2 separate regions of the Homo sapiens genome follow, and region 1 is linked to region 2. Evidence: fine-mapped expression QTL. A gene starts in region 2. The other region holds a variant in brackets. All regions are shown on one strand. Distances are from middle to middle. Region 1 holds the start of LINC01766 (long intergenic non-protein coding RNA 1766). Region 2 holds the start of UPK1A-AS1 (UPK1A antisense RNA 1).

Region 1 (9,470 bases), 76 kb after region 2:
CAGTAGTAGGCTTGTTTGGAGGTCTTGGCTGCCAGCTCATAGTCACTGGATTTATTGTAGTTCTTTGTCTACAATACAAACTTTGTCTGAGTTTTAGGAGAGAGGGAACAGGGAAAGATGAGTATAAAAGAGTTATTGCGTGGCCGGGCATGGTGGCTCATGCCTGTAATCCCAGCACTTTGGGAAGCTGAGGTGGGCAGATCACCTGAGGTCAGGTGTTCAAGACCAGCCTGGCCAACATGGTGAAACCCAGCTCCACCAAAAATACGAAAATTAGCCAGGCGTGTTGGTGGGCGCCTCTAATCCCAGCTACTCAGGAAGCTGAGGCAGGATAATTGTTTGAACCTGCGAGATGGAGGTTGCGGTGAGCTGAGATCTCACCACTGCACTCCAGCTTGGGTGACAGAGCGAGACTCTGTTTCAAAAAAAAAAAAAACAGTTGTTGGGTGAGGGTGGGCTGTGGAACTGTAAGGACTCAGGGTGGGGGTCTGAACCCACAGGAGGTGCTGGTGTTGCTCAGGCTCCTAGTTCAGAAGGGAGAACAAGGAAGAAGTTGAGTCAGGGTCAGGGGCAAGATGGAGAGGGAGGGTGAAGGATTGGCATGATGCAGGTGCCCACCAGGCAAGAAAAGATCACGGCTGGGATGGCTAGGGGAAGGCAACAGAAGAGGCCCAGGATGGACAGGCAGAGGTAGTCGCTGGATTCATCCTCATCAGACATCAGTTCAAACACCTGGGGGGCAGAGAGTTGGTTATGTCTCACTATGGCTTCTGAACTCTAACAATCCTTTCTCACTCTCTCCCTACTTACCCTAACACATCTCTCCTTGGCAGCTATATGATCTTCATTGACCCCATTTAAAATTCTCATTGACTTTCTCTAACCCCCACCATGTCTCCTCTAACCTCTCTCTATCCCTTTTTTTTATTTTTTATTTTATTTATTTATTTTTTTGAGACGGAATCTCGCTCTGTCATCCAGGCTAGAGTGCAGTGGTGCGATCTTGGCTCACTGCAAGCTCTGCCTCCCAGGTTCATGCCATTCTCCTGCCTCAGCCTCCCGAGTAGCTGGGACTACAGGCGCCCGCTACCACGCCTGGCTAATTTTTTGTATTTTTAGTAGAGACGGGGTTTCACCGTGTTAGCCAGGATGGTCTCAATCTCCTGACCTCGTGATCCACCTGTCTCAGCCTCCCAAAGTGCTGGGATTACAGGCGTGAGCCACCGCGCCCGGCAAATCCCTTTTATTTTTTGAGACAAGGTCTTGCTCTCTCACTCAGGCTGAAGTGCACTGGCATGATCACAGTTCACTGCAGCCTCGAACTCCTGGGCTCAAGCAATCCTCCTGCCTCAGCCTCCCACGTAGCTGGTACAAACCACCACACCCAGCTAATTTTTGATTTTTGTTGTTGTTGTAGAGATGGAATCTCATTATGTTGCCCAGGCTTGTCGTGAACTCCTGGCCTTAAATGATCCTTCTGCCTTGATCTTTCAAAGTGCTAGGATTATAGGTGTGAACCACCATGCCTGGCCTCTGTATCGCTCTTATTTATTTACTGAGACAGAGTCTCAGTCTTTTCTCCAGGCTGGAGTACAATGGTGTGATCTCAGCTCACTGCAACCTCTGCCTCCTGGGTTCAAGCAGTTCTCGTGCCTCAGCCTCCTGAGTAGTTGGGATTACAGGCATGTGCTACCATGCCCAGCTAATTTTTGTATTTTTAGTAGAGTTGGGGTTTCACCATGTTGGCCAGGCTGGTCTTGAACTCCTGACCTCAGGTGACCCACCTGCCTTGGCCTCCCAAAGTGCTGGGATTACAGGCATGAGCCACCACACCCAGCCCTTTCTTATTTACTTATTTTTTATTTTTGAGACAAAGTCTCACTATGTCACCCAGGCTGGAGGGCAGTGGCACGATCTCGCCTCACTGCAGCCTCTGCCTCCTGGGCTCAGGCAATTCTTATGCCTCAGCCACTTGAGGAGCCGGGATTACAGGTGTGCACCACTATGCCCGCTAATTTTTGTATTTTTAGTAGAGACTGAGTTCATCGGTCTGGTAGTTGGCCAGGCTAGTCTTGAACTCCTGGCCTTGAGTGATCCTCCCACCTCGGCCTCCCAAAGTGCTGGGATTACAGGCGTGAGCCACCACGCCCGGCCCATAGCTCCTCTTGTAACCTGTTAAATATATGTGTTTAACCACCCTGTCATCATATCTCCACAGGAGCTCCAGGTACAATTGACAGCTGGGAATGTGCCTGACAATTAAGACTAAATGCTGTGTACACATCTCAGATAATTCAGTAAATGTCTCAATAGCCCTGAGAGACATGCACCTAAAAATCAAAGCTATGTCTGACCCCACATTATCACCAGGTCAATGGTTGGCATCCTGTTGCAGGTGAGGACTGTTCTCACCTGGAAAGAAGCTATTTACAACTTTGGCCCTAGTTGCAATGATAGACATACTTCTCTGCTGTGGATTTTTCTGCTGTTTCACCTTCTATATGGGAATGCAAGACAGACTTCCCCAGAGACTTTCCAGACCTTACACCATATTGGTCCAACTACTCATAAATATTTCCAACTCCAAGTGGATCGGTTCCATTCTGATGACTAATCACAATGCCCTCTTTCAGCAGGAAGTAGCCAGCATGAATGTGGCATCCAAATCCCATAGAAATGGAATGGAATTTGACAGTGGGAAACTGTAATTGAGTACCACATTTTTTTTTTTTGAGACAAAGTCTTGCTGTGTCGCCCAGGCTGGAGTGCAGTGGCGTGAGCTCAGCTGCAACCTCCGCCTTGTGGGTTGAAGCGATTCTCCTGCCTCAGCCTCCCAAGTAGCTGGGACTACAGGCACCTGCCACCACGCCCGGCTAATTTTTGTATTTTTAGTAGAGACGGGGTTTCACTGTGTTGGCCAGGCTGGTCTTGAACTTCCGACCTTGTGATCTGCCTGCCTCAGCTTCCCAAAGTGCTGGGATTACAGGTTTGAGCCACTGTGCCTGGCCAGAGTACCCCATTTTTAAAGAAAAAAAAGGATTTTTTTCCTTTTTCTTTTCCCCCCATCTCCTACTTAACTCTTTAGGAATGCAACTGTAACCTCCCTACATGGCAAGCTTATCTAACAATATGTTTACTTAGAAGTTCCAGGGACTGAACCTTGAAACAAATCAGGCACCCCCAGAATTCTCTCCCATCAGATTGCCTTGAGACAATGGTCAATTTCTCTTCTCACGATGGTGACAGCTAGAACACCTGATAGATAAGACATCAAAGCATGTCACATAGACCCCACACCTCCTTGCCCCCCACCTTTATGTCATTCACATCAAGCCCCCCTTTAAAAGTCCCTGCTTTCTGTCCTGAAAGCTGAAGCAATACCCTTAAGGCAGGAACCTGTACCTCTTCCCCTCACCTGAGCTCTGGAATAAAGTCACCTTCTTTCTACCAGAACTTGCTCTTGTTAATTGGACTCTGCAAGCGTGGAGTGACTGGACCTGTGTTTGGGTATAAAACCTTCATTATAAATTCACTGTTCCCTTATAAAACTCTCACCCTGTAAAACTTCTTTGTCTTCTGTTTTTTTTTTTTTTTTTTTTTTTTTTTCAGAGACAGGGTCTTCTCTCCCAGGCTGTAGGAGTGCAAAGGCACAATCATAGCTCAGTGCAGCCTCAAACTCCTGGGCTCAAGTGATCCTCCTGCCTCAGCTTCCTGAGTGGCTGGGACTACAGGTGCACACCACCAGGCCCAGCTAACTAAAATTTTGTTTTGTTTTGTTTTTGTTTTGCTGGGTGTGGTGGCTGACGCCTGTAATCCCAATACTTTGGGAGGCCGAGGTGGGCGGATCACCTGAGGTCAGGAGTTTGAGGCCACCTTGGCTAACATAGTGAAACCCCGTCTCTACTAAAAATACAAAAATTAGCCGGGCGTGGTGGCACGCACCTGTAATCCCAGCTACTTGGGAGGCTGAGGCAGAACTCGGGAGGTGGAGGTTGAAGTGAGCCAAGATCCTGCCACTGCACTCCAGCCTGGGTGACACAGCGAGACTCTCTCAAAAAAAAAAAAAAAAAAAAAAAATTTTTTTCTTTTGGTAGAGATGGGGTTTTGCTACAATGTTGCCCATGCTGGTCTTGAATTCCTGGGCTCAGGTGATCCTCCCACCTCTGCCCCCCAAAGTAAAACTTCTGTTAGCTCTCTCACTGTTCCTTTTATAATATCCTTTACTTCGTCCCTATGAATCCTGCGGGGTCCTGCTGTAAACCTTTCCTGTTCGCCCATAAGCTCCCTGCCCCTTTAGCTCCTCTAAGACCTTATTTGACCACCTATTCACTCCTCTTGCTGGGACTATAGGCGCCCGCCACCACGCCCGGCTAATTTTTGTATTTGTAGTAGAGACAGGGTTTCAGTCTCTACTTCTTTGTCACCTTACAAAGTCCTGCCCTGTCTCCCTCTAACACCTCTCAACTTCTGAAACCAGCTTTCTGACTCTTTGAACTCCCTCTCCAACCACGTACAACAGCCTTCCTGTTCTAAACCCGTGCCCTTGTGACATATGTCTGTGTCCACT[T/G]ATATCACCCCTGAGGTTCCTTTATGATACCCTTTCTGCTCTCATCATTTCCCCTCTACTCTAACACTCCTCCTCCTACTCCTGCCCTCCTGGAACATTCCCAGGAGGGCACCTAGGTCTGGCACTATGCTCTTCCTTGATCACCAACCACAGGGGATTACCATGGCGGCCAGGCAGGCCCCGCCTCCTAGCCTGTCTCTCTACTTCTACTGGCCAATTGGAGGTGGTATGTCATAGGGTGGGAACCAACACCTGGCTTCTGATTGGTTTGATGGGGTGACAGCTCCTTCTACTCTCTCAAGTGATTGGCCAATTGAGGAATCCCTGGTTCCACCTTCAAAACAGACCTATAAATAAGCCTCATTTCCTTGATCATCTTTGTTTAAAGATTCCTCCTGAGCATCTTGAGAGAAAAGCACTACTTGGGGCAAGAGTGATGTAGGCCTCGGAGTCTTGTGTTTCAGGAAAAACACAATGCATTTTCTCTGCTCTCATACCACAACAGTCAACACAGAAGAGTTCTTTGATCAAATGTGTGGGTTCCCCCCTTTTTCCCCACCCCCTCAAGCCCCTCCAACACCAAGCAAACAATCATTTCTTTTCTTCCTTCCTTTCCTTTCCTTTCTTTCCTTCATTCTTTCCCCCTTCCCTTCCCCTCCCCTCCCTTTCCCTTTCCCCTTCCCTTCCCCTTCCCCTTTCCCTTTCCCTTTCCCTTCCCTTCCCTCTTTTCTTCCTTTTCCTTCTCTTCTTTCTTTTCCTTCTTTCTTCTTGCTCTGTCTTCCAGGCTGGAGTGTGGTGATGTGATCTTGGCTCACTGCAACCTCCGCCTCCTGGGTTCAAGTGATTCTCCTGCCTCAGCCACCTGAGTAGCTGGGACTACAGGTGCGCACCACCATGCCTGGCTAATTTTTTGTATTTTTAGTAGAGACGGGGTTCTGCCATGTTGACTAGGCTGGTCTCGAACGCCTGACCTTAAGTGATCCGCCTGCCTTGGCCTCCTAAAGTTCTAGGATTACAGGCATTACGCCCGGCCTACTTCTATTTTTTAAGTTTTTAATTTTTTTATTTTTTGAGACAGAGTCTCACTCTGTTGTTCAGGCTGGAGTGCAATGGCGTGATCTCGGCTCACTGCAACCTCCGCCTCCTGCATTCAAGTGATTCTCCTGCCTCAGCCTCCCAAGTAGCTGGGATTACAGGCACCTGCCACTATGCCTGGCTAATTTTTGTATGCTTAGTAGAGACTGGGTTTCACCATGTTAGTGAGGCTGGTCTCGAACTCCTGACCTCAGGTGATCAGCCCATCTTGGCCTCCCAAAATGCTGGGATTGCAGGAGTGAGCCACCGCGCCTGGCCTACTTCTATTTTTTTTAAGACAAGGTTTTGTTCTGTTGCTAGTCTGGAGTGTAGTGGTGTGAACACGGCTCACTGCAGCCTTGACCTCCTGGGCTCAAACAACCTCCTGCCCCAAACTTCTGAGTAGCTGGGGCTACAGGTGCAAGCCACCATGCCAGGTTAATTTTGAAATTTTTTGCAGAGATGGGGTCTCACTATGTTGCCCAGGCTGATCTTGAACTCCTGGGCTCAAGTTATTTATGTATGTATTTATTTGAGACAGGGCCTCACTCTGTCACCCAGGCTGGAGTGCAGTGATGTGATGATGGCTCACTGCAGCCTCGACTTCCTGGGCTCAGGTTATCCTCCTGCCTCAGTCTCCCAAGTAGCTGGGACTATAGGCGTGTGCCACCACACCCAGCTAACTTCTTTGTATTTTTAGTAGAGACGGAGTTTCACCATGTTTTCCAGGCTGATCTCAAACTCCTGGGCTCAAGTGATCCACCCACCTCGGCTTCCCGAAGTGCTGATATTACAGGCATGAGCCTTTGAACCTGGCTATTTTTTTTTTTTGAGATGGAGTCTCCCTCTGTCGCCAGGCTGGAGTGCAGTGGTGCGATCTCGGCTCACTGCAACCTCTGACTCCCTGGTTCAAGCGATTCTCCTGCCTCAGCCTCCCTAGTAGCTGGGATTGCAGGCATCCGCCACCACGCCCAGCTAATTTTTGTATTTTTAGTAGAGACAGGGTTTCACCTTGTTGGCCACGATGGTCTCCTGACCTCGTGATCTGCCTGCCTTGGCCTCCCAAAGTGCTGGGATTACAGGTGTGAGCCAACGCGCCCGGCTCTGGCTATTTTTTTTTTAAGTGCATTATGAAAATATTTTATAACTTGTGTGTTTAGATCATGTGCCTTAAATATGATTATTGGTATGTTTTGCTTTAGGTCTACTATTATTTGTTTTTTATTTCCACTTTTCTGTGTTTTGTTCCTTGTTTTCCCTTTTCCTTCTTTCTTTTGGATTATTCAAATACTATTTTAGTACTCCATTTTAATTTATTTATTGTGATTTTCACTATATATCTTTGCAAGTTTTAAGTGATTGCTCTACGGATTATGGTAAACACACTTAAACATTCTATAGTCTACCTAGATTGAATATTTTGCAACTTCAAGTGGAATATGGAAAACTTCCACCATATTGGTCCCTTCATTGTCTCCCATGTATGCGTTAGCTTTCACATGCATTATAAAGACATGTATTGAAAATACATCCGTCCAGGGCTGTGGCTCACGCCTGTAATCCCAGCACTTTGAGAGGCTGAGGTAGGTGGATCACCTAAGGTCAGGAGTTCAAGACCAGCCTGGCCAACATGGTGAGACCCCGTCTCTACTAAAAATACAAAAATTAGCTGGGCATGGTGGTGGGCGCCTGTAATCCCAGCTACTAGGGAGACTGAGGCAGGAGAATCGCTTGAACCCAGGAGGTGGAAGTTGCAGTGAGCCAAGATCACACCACTGCACTCCAGCCTGGGTGACAGAGTGAGACTCTATCTCCAAAAAAAAAAAAAAAAGAAAAAAAAAAAACGAAAAGAAAAACGCCAGGCACGGTGGCTCATGCCTGTAATCCCAGCACTTTGGGAGGTTGAGGAGGGCAGATCCCGAGGTCAGGAGATCGAGCCCATCCTGGCTAACAAGGTGAAACCCCGTCTCTACTAAAAATACAAAAATTTAGCTGGGCGTGGTGGCGGGTGCCTGTAGTCCCGGCTACTCGGGAGGCTGAGACAGGAGAATGGCGTGAACCCGGGAGGCGGAGCTGGCAGTGAGCCGAGACCACACCACTGCACTCCAGCTTGGGTGACAGAGTGAGACTCCATCTCAAAAAAAAAAAAAAAAAAAAAAACCCTCCCAAAGTGCTGGGATTACAGGCGTGAGCCACCATGCCCAGCAGTCATTCCTTTCAATGGCAAAAACCGCAATTATTTTTGCATCAACTACACACACAGACACACACACACACACATATCTCATGTCACCTGCAGATACAGTTTTATTTCTTCCTTTCCAATCTAAATGCCTTTTTTTCTTTTTTGAGACAGAGTCTCACTCTATTCCTCAGGCTGGAGTGCAGTGTTGGTGTGATCATAGCTCACTGCAGTCTCAAAGTCCTGGGCTCAAGTGATCTCCCTGCCTCAGCCCCCTGAGCAGGTAGGACTACAGGCATGTGCCACCATGCTTGGCTAATTTTTTAATATTTTTTGTAGAGATGGGGTCATGCTGTGTTGCCTAGGCTGGTCTTGACATCCTAGTCTCAAGTGATCCTCCTGCCTCCCAAAGTGTTAGGATTACAGACGTCAGCCACTGCGCCGGGCCCTGTTTGCGTTTTTTTCTTGCAGTGACTAGAACTTCCAGCACTATGTCAAATAGGAGTGTCAAGAGCAGACATCCTTTCCTTGTTGTTGATCTTATAGGGAAAGTATTCCATCCTTCATCATTAAATATGATATATATTTGGTGTGTTTAAATCTATTATTGTTATTACTATTATTATTATTATTATTATTTGAGACGGAGTTTTGCTCTTGTTGCCCAGGCTGGAGTGCAATGGCGCCATCTCGGCTCACTACAACCTCCGACTCCCGAGCTCTAAGCGATTCTCCTGCATCAGCCTCCCGAGTAGCTGGGATTACAGGTGACTGTCACCACGGCTGGCTAATTTTTATATTTTTAGTAGAGACGAGGTTTCACCATGTTGGCCGGGCTGGTCTCGAACTCCTGACCTCAATTGATTTACCTGCCTCAGCCTCCCAAAGTCCTGGGATTACAGGAGTGAGCCACCGCGCCTGGCCGTTATTAATATTTTTGATGTTTAAGTTGTACCACTCTGGGCCAGTGGGCGCTCCTTCAAGTTAGCTTCTATGTCGAAAATAAAAATGATTTGTTAAGAGAAAGGTAAGTGATTAACAAGTGACTCCAGCAGGTAAAAAGATTGAATTGCTACTAACGGTCGATGGGAGGCAGTGTTGTCCACCTAGTGCTTAAGAACACGGCTTTTGGTGGCAGATTTCCTGGTTCCCAATCCTGGCCCCTCAGTGAATTCGCTGTGAGACCTGCACTGTGTCTTTCCAGCTCCCTGTGCTTTATCCTCAGTCTGTAAGAATGCAGGCTATAGGGTTAGTGTGGAGACCAAAAGAATCAATACTCCGAAGCTGCTCATAACAGTGGCTTGTACTTGACTCCGAGAGTTGCTGCTTTCACCATCATAGTGAAGACAAAGTACTCAAAATCTGCTACACGAAAAAGATTACAGGCCCAGAAGATTTTGCAGGCATGTTCACTCCAACTTTTTTTTTTTTTTTTGGAGATGGAGTTTCGCTCTTGTCACCCAGGCTGCAGTGCAATGGCGTGATCTTGGCTTACTGCAACCTCCGCTTCCCGGGTTCAAGTGATTCTCCTGCCTCAGCCTCCCGAGCAGCTGGGATTACAGTTGTGTGCCACCATGCCCAGCTAATTTTTGTATTATTAGTAGAGATGGGGGTTTCACCATATTGGCCAGGCTGGTCTCGAACTCC
Region 2 (9,376 bases):
GACCATGGCACTGTCCACCTCCTCGGGTGGTTTCGGGGCCCCAGGGAGCTGATGTTGAACCCAGGCCCTGCACAAGTAGGTGCCGCCCTGCTGATGGCTATGACAATCTGAGGGTGATTTTGATCTTACAGCTGGCTTTTTTTTTTTTTTGGAGACAGTCTCGCAGTCTCCCTCTGTCACCCAGGCTACAGTGCAGTGGCATGATCTCGGCTCACTGAAACCTTTACCTCCCGCGTTCAAGCAATTCTCCTGCCTCAGCCTCCTGAGTAGCTGGGATTACAGGTGTGCACCACTACGCCCGGCTAATTTTTGTATTTTTAGTAGAGACGGGGTTTCACCATGTTGGTCAGGCTGGTCTCGAACTCCTGATCTTGTGATCCTCCCATCTCGGTCTCCCAAAGTGCTGGGATTACAGGCATGAGCCACTGTGCGCGCCCGGCCTTTTTTTTTTTAAAGTCTCTTGCCTTTTTTAAGTCTCTTGCCTAGGCTAGAGTGCAGTGGCACCATCACAGCTCTCTGCAGCCTTGACCTCCTAGACTCAAACAATCCTCCTGCCTTAGCCTCCCCAGTAGCTGGGATTACAGGCGCGCACCACCACGCCTGGCTAATTTTCTGTACTTTTTTGTAGAGACGGGGTCTTGATATGTTGCCCAGGCTGGTCTTGAGCTTCTGACCTCAAGTGATGCTCCTGCCTTGGCCTCCCAAAGTACTGGGATTACAGTCGTGAGCCCCCGTGCCTAGCTCTATTGTTTTGTTTGATGTTTTGTTTTGTTTTTTTTTGTTTGAGATGGAGTTTCACTCTGTCGCCCAGGCTGGGGTGCAGTGGCACAATCTCGGCTCACTGCAACCTTCACCTCCAGAGTTCAAGTGATTCTCCTACCTCAGCCTCCCGAGTAGCTGGGATTACAGGCACGTGCTACTGCTCTGGGCTAATTTTTGCATTTTTAGTAGAGATGGGGTTTCGCCATGTTGGTCAGGCTGGTCTCGAACTCTTGACCTCAAGTGATCTGCCCTCCTCAGCCTCCCAAAGTGCTGAGATTACAGGCATGAGCCATCGCGCCCGGCCCTATTATTGCTCTTATTCTCGGACAACCTGAGTAAAGTTGTAGGTGCCAGGTCTGGTTCAGACAGACCCTGGGTGCATCCTGCTGACTTGAGAGAGAGTTGGGGGAGCACTAGAAAATCAGAGAGGGGACCCAGCGTGGTGGCTCACGCCTGTAATCTGAGCACTTTGGGAGGCTGAGGTGGGTGGATCACTTGAGCTCAGGAGTTCGAGACCAGCCTGGACAACATGGTCAAACCCCGTCTCTGCTAAAAATACAAAAACTAGCCAAGAGGGTGGTGCGCACCTGTAATCCCAGCTGCTCTGGAAGCTGAGGTGGGAGAATCCCTTGAACCCGGGAGGCAGACGCTGCAGTGAGCTGAGATTGTGCCACTGTACTCCAGCCTGGGTGACAGAGCAGGACTCGGTCTTGAAAAAAAAAAAAGAAAGAAAGAAAGAAAGAAAGAAAAAGAAAACAAGAAAATCAGAGAGGGGAAGAGGAGAGGGAAAAAGCTAGACGGACAGACACAGGGAGGGAGAAAGAGAGAATCAGAGAGGGAGCAGAGACCAGAGGAAGACAGACAGATGGATAGACAGATGGAGCAGGGCAGACGGCCACACCTTGGTGAACAGGTAGTCCATGTGCCCCAGGCGGCAGCCCTCCTCGTTGAGGGGGATGAAGTTTCCCGTCCGGCGACAGCACAGTGGGGGCCAGGGGAACACCACCTCCGGAGTGGCCGCCCGGAAGGCTGACGTGAAGTTCACCCAGTCCATGGGACCAGATGTGCCACAGCATTCTTGCTAGAGTGAAAAGCAGGGGGTCAGGCAGGCTCGGGCTCAGAGAGGACAGTTGCTTGCCTGAGGTCACACAGCAAGGAGGGGCAGGATTGGCCTTTGACACAGCTGGGCCCAACTTCCCCATGTCCTGGGCCTCCAAGCGAGTGTGTCCGGTGGGTGTCTGTGTGTGTGAGCACGGTGCAGACAATATTTGTCCCAGGACCAGGAGGCTGATGGGGGATTTGGATTAAACCTGCACCTCTGACTTATTTTAAAATATTTTTGCCGGGCACGGTGTCTCACGCCTGTAATCCCAGCTCTCTGGGAGGCCGAGGTGGATGGATCACCTGAGGTCAGGAGTTCGAGACCAGCCTGACCAACATGATGAAACCCCGTCTCTACTAAAAATACAAAATTTGCCGGGTGTGGTGGTGGGCGCCTGTAATCCCAGCTACTTGAGAGGCTGGGGCAGGAGAATTGCTTGAATCCGGGAGGTGGCGACTGCAGTGAGCCAAGATCGTGCCACTGCACTCCAGCCTGGGAATCAAGAATGAAACTCCATCTCAAAAAATAAAATAAAATAAAATATTTTTATCAACAACTATGCTGATAAAATAACACAAAAAGGGCAGATTTCTGGCTTTTCCTGGCCTTGGTAAGGAATCCAGGTGTTTAATTTGTGGCTCCTGAATGAGGAAAACATAGGCTTGGGCACCCTTCAAACATGGGTTCAAATCCTGGCTAGCTAGAGGACTTGGGCCACATTGACGCCTCAGTTTTCCTTGAGTCCTCAATTTCTTCTTCTTTTTTTTTTTTTTTTTTGAGACGGAGTCTCCCTCTGTTGTCCAGGCTGGAGTACAGTGGCGCCATCTTGGCTCACTGCAACCTCCCCCTCCTGGGTTCAAGTGATTCTCCTGCCTCAGCCTCCCAAGTAGCTGGAATCACAGGCGCACACTACTACACCTGACTAATTTTTGTATTTTTTGTAGAGACAGGGTTTCACCATGTTGGCCAGGATGGTCTTGAACCCCTGAACTCAAGTGATCTGCCCGCCTTTGCCTCCCAAAGTGTTGGGATTATAGGTTTGAGCCACTGCACCCAGCCAATTTCTTCCTTTTCCAGTGCAATATCATGTTGGATTTGAGGAAGACTGTATCTCTTCAAACCTGGAAGTCTGAGTTTGAATCCTTCCAGTTCTGTGACCTACCAGGTGTGTGACCTCATGCAAGATATTCAACCTCTTGCTTTGGTCTCCTCATCACTAAAAGGCCGATCTCCCTTATGGAGTGGTCGTGAGGATTAAAAAAGCTTTAAAAGTGCTTTGAAAGGCTGGGCACGGTGGCTCAAGCCTGTAATCCCAGCACTTTGGGAGGCCGAGGCAGGTGGATCACAAGGTCAGGAGATCAAGACCATCCTGGCTAACACCCATCTCTACTAAAAATACAAAAAATCAGCTGGGCGCGGTGGCAGGCGCCTGTAGTCCCAGCTATTCGGGAGGCTGAGGCAGGAGAATAGCGTGAACCCGGGAGGCGGAGCTTGCAGTGAGCCGAGATCGCGCCACTGCATTCCAGCCTGGGCGACAGAGCAAGACTCTGTCTCAAAAAAAAAAAAAAAAAAAAAAAGATAAAAAGAAAAAAAAAAATGTGCTTTGAGGCCAGGCACTCGTGGCTCATGCCTGTGATCTCGGCACTTTGAGAGGCGGAGGTGGGAGAATCGCTCCAATCCTGAGCCCAGGAGTTCCAGACCAGCCTGGGCAATAGAGCAAGACCCCCATCTCCACAAAAGATAATTTAAAAAACTTAGCCGGGTGTGGTGGGGCGCACCTGTATTCCCAGCTACTCGGGAAGCTGAGGCGGGAGGATCACTTGAGCCCAGGAGTTGGAGGTTGCAGTGAGCTATGATCACTCCAGCCTGGGCAACAGAGCAAGACCCCATCTCAAAATATAAAAATAAAAGTCCTTTGAACAGTGTGAAACCTAGCTCAGTGAATGGTGCTGTTACTATCATTGTTATTATCAACATTTCTGTTGAGGTAGTATGTGTAGGCTAAGAGCAGGGAGGTCAGGAGCTAGGCTGCCGGGTTCCAATCCCAGCTCCCACCACTTACCGACTGTGTGGCCTCGGGCAAGGGACTTTCCCTTTCTGGGCCTGTTTACTCATCCGCAGAACGGTGATGACCGCAGCCCTGCTCTCCTAGAGATCTCATGAGCGGATGTCTTTAAGGCACTCACTCCTCTAAAAGCTGGCACATCGGGAGCTCTATCGGCCTCTGTGGACGGAGCCCAGGGCCCTCCCAGCACCCGGTCCACCCCGCCCACCTCAATCATGACGCGGTCCCAGAGGCGGGTCAGCTCCTGGCCCTGGTCGGTGTCCGCGCTGTAGAAGGTCAGCATCTGCTTGGTGATCAGGGATGGGTTGGACACCATCTGAGGAGAACAGGGAAGAACAAGGGCCGGCAGGGCTGGGTGGGGAGAGAGGACGACCTCCGCCCCGCCGCGCCGGGACCCTCGCCCCTCCCATGCAGGTCAGGCCCCTCCCCAGGCCTCGCCGGGCTCACGTAGTCACGGTGGGTGTAGGACGTGATGCAGGAGGCGCACTCGAAGATGTAGACGATGAGCATGAGCACCAGGTACTGGGGAGACAGAGGGAGGACGGCCCGTCGGGCAGAGCCCGTGAAGCCACACCCCGTCAGGGAAGCATCACTGGGGAAATGCAAGTTTTAAAAAAGTTTGGGGCAGTGTGACTAGCAGCATCTATAATATGTGGTGGGTGTTCAGGTGTTCGCTGTATTGTCTTCCAACTTTTCTGTATTTTGAAATATTTAATTTAATTAATTTATTTTTGAGACAGGCGAGGCGTGGTGGCTCACGCCTATAATCCCAGCACTTTGGGAGGCCGAGGGGGCGATCACCTGAGTCAGGAGTTCGAGACCAGCCTGGCCAACATGGTGAAACCCCTTCTCTACTAAAAATACAAAAATTAGGGCTGGGCATTGGTGGCTCACACCTGTAATCCCAGCACTTTGGGAGGCTGAGATGGGAAGATTGCTTGAACCCTGGAGTTCAAGATCAGCCTGGGCAACACAGTGAGACCCCGTCGCTACAAAAAATAAAAATAAAAAAATTAGTTAAGCATAGTTACTACTAGTGGTAGTGTTAGTCCTAGCTATTTGGGAGGCTGAGGTTGGAGGATCGTTTGAGCCCAGTAGTTGGAGGCCTCAGCGAGCTATGATCGCACCACTGCATTCCTGCCTGGGCAACAGAGCAAAACCCTGTCTCTTAAAACAAAACAAACAAGGGTGGGTGCAGTGGCTTACGCCTGTAATCCCAACACTTTGGGAGGTTGAGACGGGTGGATCACCTGAGGTCAGGAGTTCAAGACCAGCCTGACCAATATGGTGAAACCCCATCTACTAAAAATGCAAAAATACAAAAATTAGCTGGGCATGGTGATGGGTGCCTGTAATCCCAGCTACTCAGGAGGATGAGATAGGAGAATAGCTTGAACCCAGGAGGCAGAGGTTGCAATGAGCCGAGATTGTGCCATTACACTCCAGCCTGGGCAACAGAGTGAGACCCTGTCTCTTAAAATAAAACAAACAACATAAAACGATGTTCTCAGATAATCAGAGACATTTGACACAGACTGGGTATTGGAAGATATAGAAGAACTTGATTGAATTTGGTGGGTTGTGCCAACGGCACAGAGGGCAGGAGAAAAAAAAAAGCTTGTCAGTTGATGTTTAATGCAAATTCTTTTCATGTCCTCACCTGGCACCTTCATCTATAAAGCAGCAGGAGGTTGCGTGTGGATGTGTGAACTCTGCTGCTGGGAGATGGATGACATTGCACAACCTCCTGACTGCTTTAAAACAATGTGCTTATCACTCAGAGAAATGTGTGCTCCAGTATTTACAGGCAAGTGACTTGGCATCTAGAATGTGCTTCAAAATACCCAGAAGAAAAAGTATGAGAGAAGGGGGATAGAGGAGACAATGTCGGGCAGTCTGCAGCTGATGTTGTTGAAATCAGGTGAGAGGTATGCAGGGCTCAAATACTGCGGACTCTAGTCTACTTTAGAAATTTCCTGTAAGAAATTTGGGGGCCGGGCACGGTGGCTCATGCCTGTAATCTCAGCACTTTGGGAAGCCGAGGTGGGCGGATCACGAGGTCAGGAGATCGAGACCATCCTGGCTAACACGGCGAAACCCCATCTCTACTAAAAATACAAAAAAAAAAATTAACCAGGCGTGGTGGCAGGTGCCTGTAGTCCCAGCTACTCGGGAGGCTGAGGCAGGAGAATGGCGTGAACCCGGGAGGCGGAGCTTGCAGTGAGCCGAGATCGCACCACTGCACTCCAGCCTGGGCAACTGAGCAAGACTCCGTCTCAAAAAAAAAAAAAAAAAGAAATTTGGGGAGAAAATGTCTTAGTTAATGACAAACTAATGGGGAAACAGACACAATTTTTTTTTTTTTTTGAGACAGAGTCTTGCTCTGTCGCCCAGGCTGGAGTGCAGTGGCGCGATCTCTGCTCACTGCAAGCTGCGCCTCCCGGGTTCACGCCATTCTCCTGCCTCAGCCTCCCGAGTAGCTGGGACTACAGGCGCCCGCCACCACGCCTGGTTAATTTTTTGTTTTTTAGTAAAGACGGGATTTCACCGTGTTAGCCAGGAAGGTCTCGATCTCCTGACCTTGTGATCCACCTGCCTCGGCCTCCCAAACTGCTGGGATTACAGGCGTGAGCCACCGAGCCCGGCCCAGACACAATTTTTAAAACTAGTTGGGTGACTTTTTAGGGCTTTGGTTAAATTGTTATGCCAGATAATTAAATACAGGATAAGAAAATAAGAGGGCAGGTGTGGTGGCTCATGCCTGTAATTCCAACACTTTGGGAGGCTGAGGTGGGAGGCTCACTTGAGGCCAGGAGTTGGAGACCAGCCTGGGCACCATAGTGAGACTCCATCTCTACAAAAAATACAAAAATTAGCTGCACATGGTGATGCACACTTGTAGTCCCAGCTCATTGGGAGGCTGAGGTGGGAGGATCATTTGAGATGAAGAGTTCGAGGTGGCAATGAGCTATGATTGTGCCACTGCACTCCAAACTGGGCAACAGAGTGAGACCCTGTCTAGAGAAACAAAGAAAGGAAGGAAGGAAGGAAGGGAGGGAGGGAGGGAGGGAGGGAGGGAAAGAAGGAAGGGAAGGAAGTCCATGGCTCCATCGTACCCAGGATAAAGCCAAAGTCCACAATACCTGCCTGTCTAGAAAAATGAAGGAAGGAAGGAGGGAGGTGGGGAGGGGAGAGGAGGGGAGGGGAGGGGAAAGGAGGGGAGGGGAGGGGAGAGGAGGCGAGGGGAGGGGAGGGGAGGGGAGGAGTCCATGGCTCCATCTTACTCAGGATAAAGCCAAAGTCCACAACACCTGCCTGTGTAGAAAAACGAAGGAAGGAAGGAAGGAGAGGGGAGGGGAGGGAAGGGGAGGGGAAGGGAGGGGAGGGGAGCAGGGGGTCTATGGGTCCATCTTACTCAGGATAAAGCCAAAGTCCACAACACCTGCCTTCCCTCCTGCTTCTTTCCCATCCCCATTCCTCACTGTTCTCCTCCCCATCTGTCTGCCTCATGTCCTCTCACCCCCCAACCTCCTCCTCACTCAGCTCCAGCTGCTTTGGACTCCTGGCCCGCTCTGGCCTCAGAGCCTTTGCCCTTGCTGCCACCTCCACCTGGAAGGCTCTTCCTCCAGTTACACACCTGCCTCGCTCCCAGTGCCTCTAGGTCTTTGCTTTCCCTGGCAGTGAGGTCTTCCCTCGCCCTCCTCGGCTCCTGACCTCCCCTCCTGTTCACTGTCTTCCTCCTCTGAGCACCACTTCCCTGGGTCAAGGGCTTTTATGTTTCGCTCAGCACAGAGCCCCAGTGCCCAGCGTAGGGCTCAGCATGTAGCTCCTGCTCATAAGCATTTGTTCATCAAATGAGTGGCTGCTTCTGGGAATCTGAAAAACCCTCTGCTGTCGAGGAAACACAGTGCTGTCTCTGTGTCATTGGGGCCGTGAATTGGAATCCCTGCTCTCCTGGTCACCTGGGAGAGGCTGTTAGCCTCTTTGAGCCTCAGTTTCCTCATCTGGTAAATGGGTTGAAAAGCACTAGCTGTGAAGGGCTTCTGGCAAGATTGAGGAAGCTCATTTTCTTTCCTTTTTTTTGAGATGGAGTCTCGCTTTGTCATCCAGGCTGGAATGCAGTGGTGTGATCTTGGCTCACTGCAACCTCTGCCTCCCGGGTTCTAGTGATTCTTCCGCCCCAGCCTCCTGAGTAGCGGGGATTACAGGTGCCTGCCACCATGCGTGGCTAATTTTTTTTTTTTTTTTTTTTTTAGAGATGGGATTTCGCCATGTTGGCCAGTCTGGTCTTGGACTCCCGACCTCAAATGATCTGTCCGCCTCAGCCTCCCCACGTGCTGGGATTACAGGCATGAGCCACTGCGCCTGGCCACGAAGCTCATTTTCTAAACTGCTTACCCTAGTGTCAGGTGCATGAGAGACACTTGGGAAGTATGGGTTATTCTTGTGGGCAGAGATTAAGAGCACAGCCTCAAGAGCCGATCTGCTCAGGTTGAAACTGGCTCTGCCATTGTCTCAATGTGTGACCCTGGATAAGTGACTTCACTTCTCTGAGCCTCAGTTTCAATCTTCATCAAACAGGGTCATGATGATGACAGTATCTCTTGGTGGACTATGAGGAATAAATGAACTAATCCAGTAAACCATTTAGAACAGCTCGTGGCTTGTAGTAAACCATTATTAAATGGTAGCTGTGCTATTATTGGCAGAGTTCATGAGCATGGACTCTGGAAAGCAGCTAGCAGGGGTTCAAATTCTAGCCCTGCACTGGGTGCAGGTAGAGGGGCTCAAGCCTGTAATCCCAGCACTTTGGGAGGCTGAGGCAGGAGAATCATTTGAGCCAGGAGTTTGAGACCAGCCTGGGCAACATAGTGAGACCCCCATCTTTACCAAAAAAAAAAAAAAGAAAAAATCCCAGCTCTGCTACTCAAGCCTGGGTTATTGGGCTGTGGGAAGACTGAATGAGATGATGCCTGGGATCCCTGAGTGTGACACCATGGGGAACTCACACTAGTGGCTGGGGCTGCACCTGCTACTATGACTCAGTGATGCTGAACTCCGTTTTCAGTGTCCCCATCCCCCAACCCCTGGAGTCTCACCGTGAGGACCATGGACCGGCGGCGGCAGAGTGCGGCACCCACACCAAAACTGGCTACCATGAAGAAGGAGAAGCCGCAGAAGATGGCAATCCAGGCACCAGCGAAGACGTCATCCTTGCCTGAGACTCCCATCAGTGGGTATACACGGTACTGGTCGGCTGTCACCCATATGGTCTCAGCAAACAGGGACAGGCCTGACAGCTGGACAGAGCGGTGGGTTAGGAAGGTCTGCTCGGGGCCAGCAGCCCTGGCACCAGGCATCTCCACGAGCAAGTTCCCTCCCCATTTGGAGCCTCCACTGCCCTCTCAGTAAAGTGGGCAAAGACCTCGCCTTCCATGAGCAGCGAT

Evidence for each region. PIP is the estimated chance that this variant, and not a neighbour inherited with it, causes the effect. A credible set is the group of variants that fine-mapping cannot tell apart.
Region 1: its variant is the best candidate, but not a certain one, in a credible set for the expression of UPK1A-AS1 in whole blood (TOPMed, PIP 0.89).

Annotation. Positions count from the first base shown.
Region 1 is chr19:35,591,903-35,601,372 of GRCh38, reverse strand. LINC01766 (long intergenic non-protein coding RNA 1766) reads right to left here and starts at 3,478. Exons shown (of 3, transcript NR_110750.1): 1 at 3,416-3,478; 2 at 619-732; 3 at 1-68. RefSeq lists an enhancer at 4,582-4,721. The variant T/G (reference allele first, on the strand shown) is at 4,568.
Region 2 is chr19:35,668,307-35,677,682 of GRCh38, reverse strand. UPK1A-AS1 (UPK1A antisense RNA 1) reads left to right here and starts at 4,392. Exons shown (of 2, transcript NR_046420.1): 1 at 4,392-4,448; 2 at 8,998-9,376. It overlaps UPK1A (uroplakin 1A), which reads right to left. Exons shown (of 8, transcript NM_007000.4): 3 at 9,029-9,229; 4 at 4,377-4,451; 5 at 4,138-4,245; 6 at 1,664-1,843.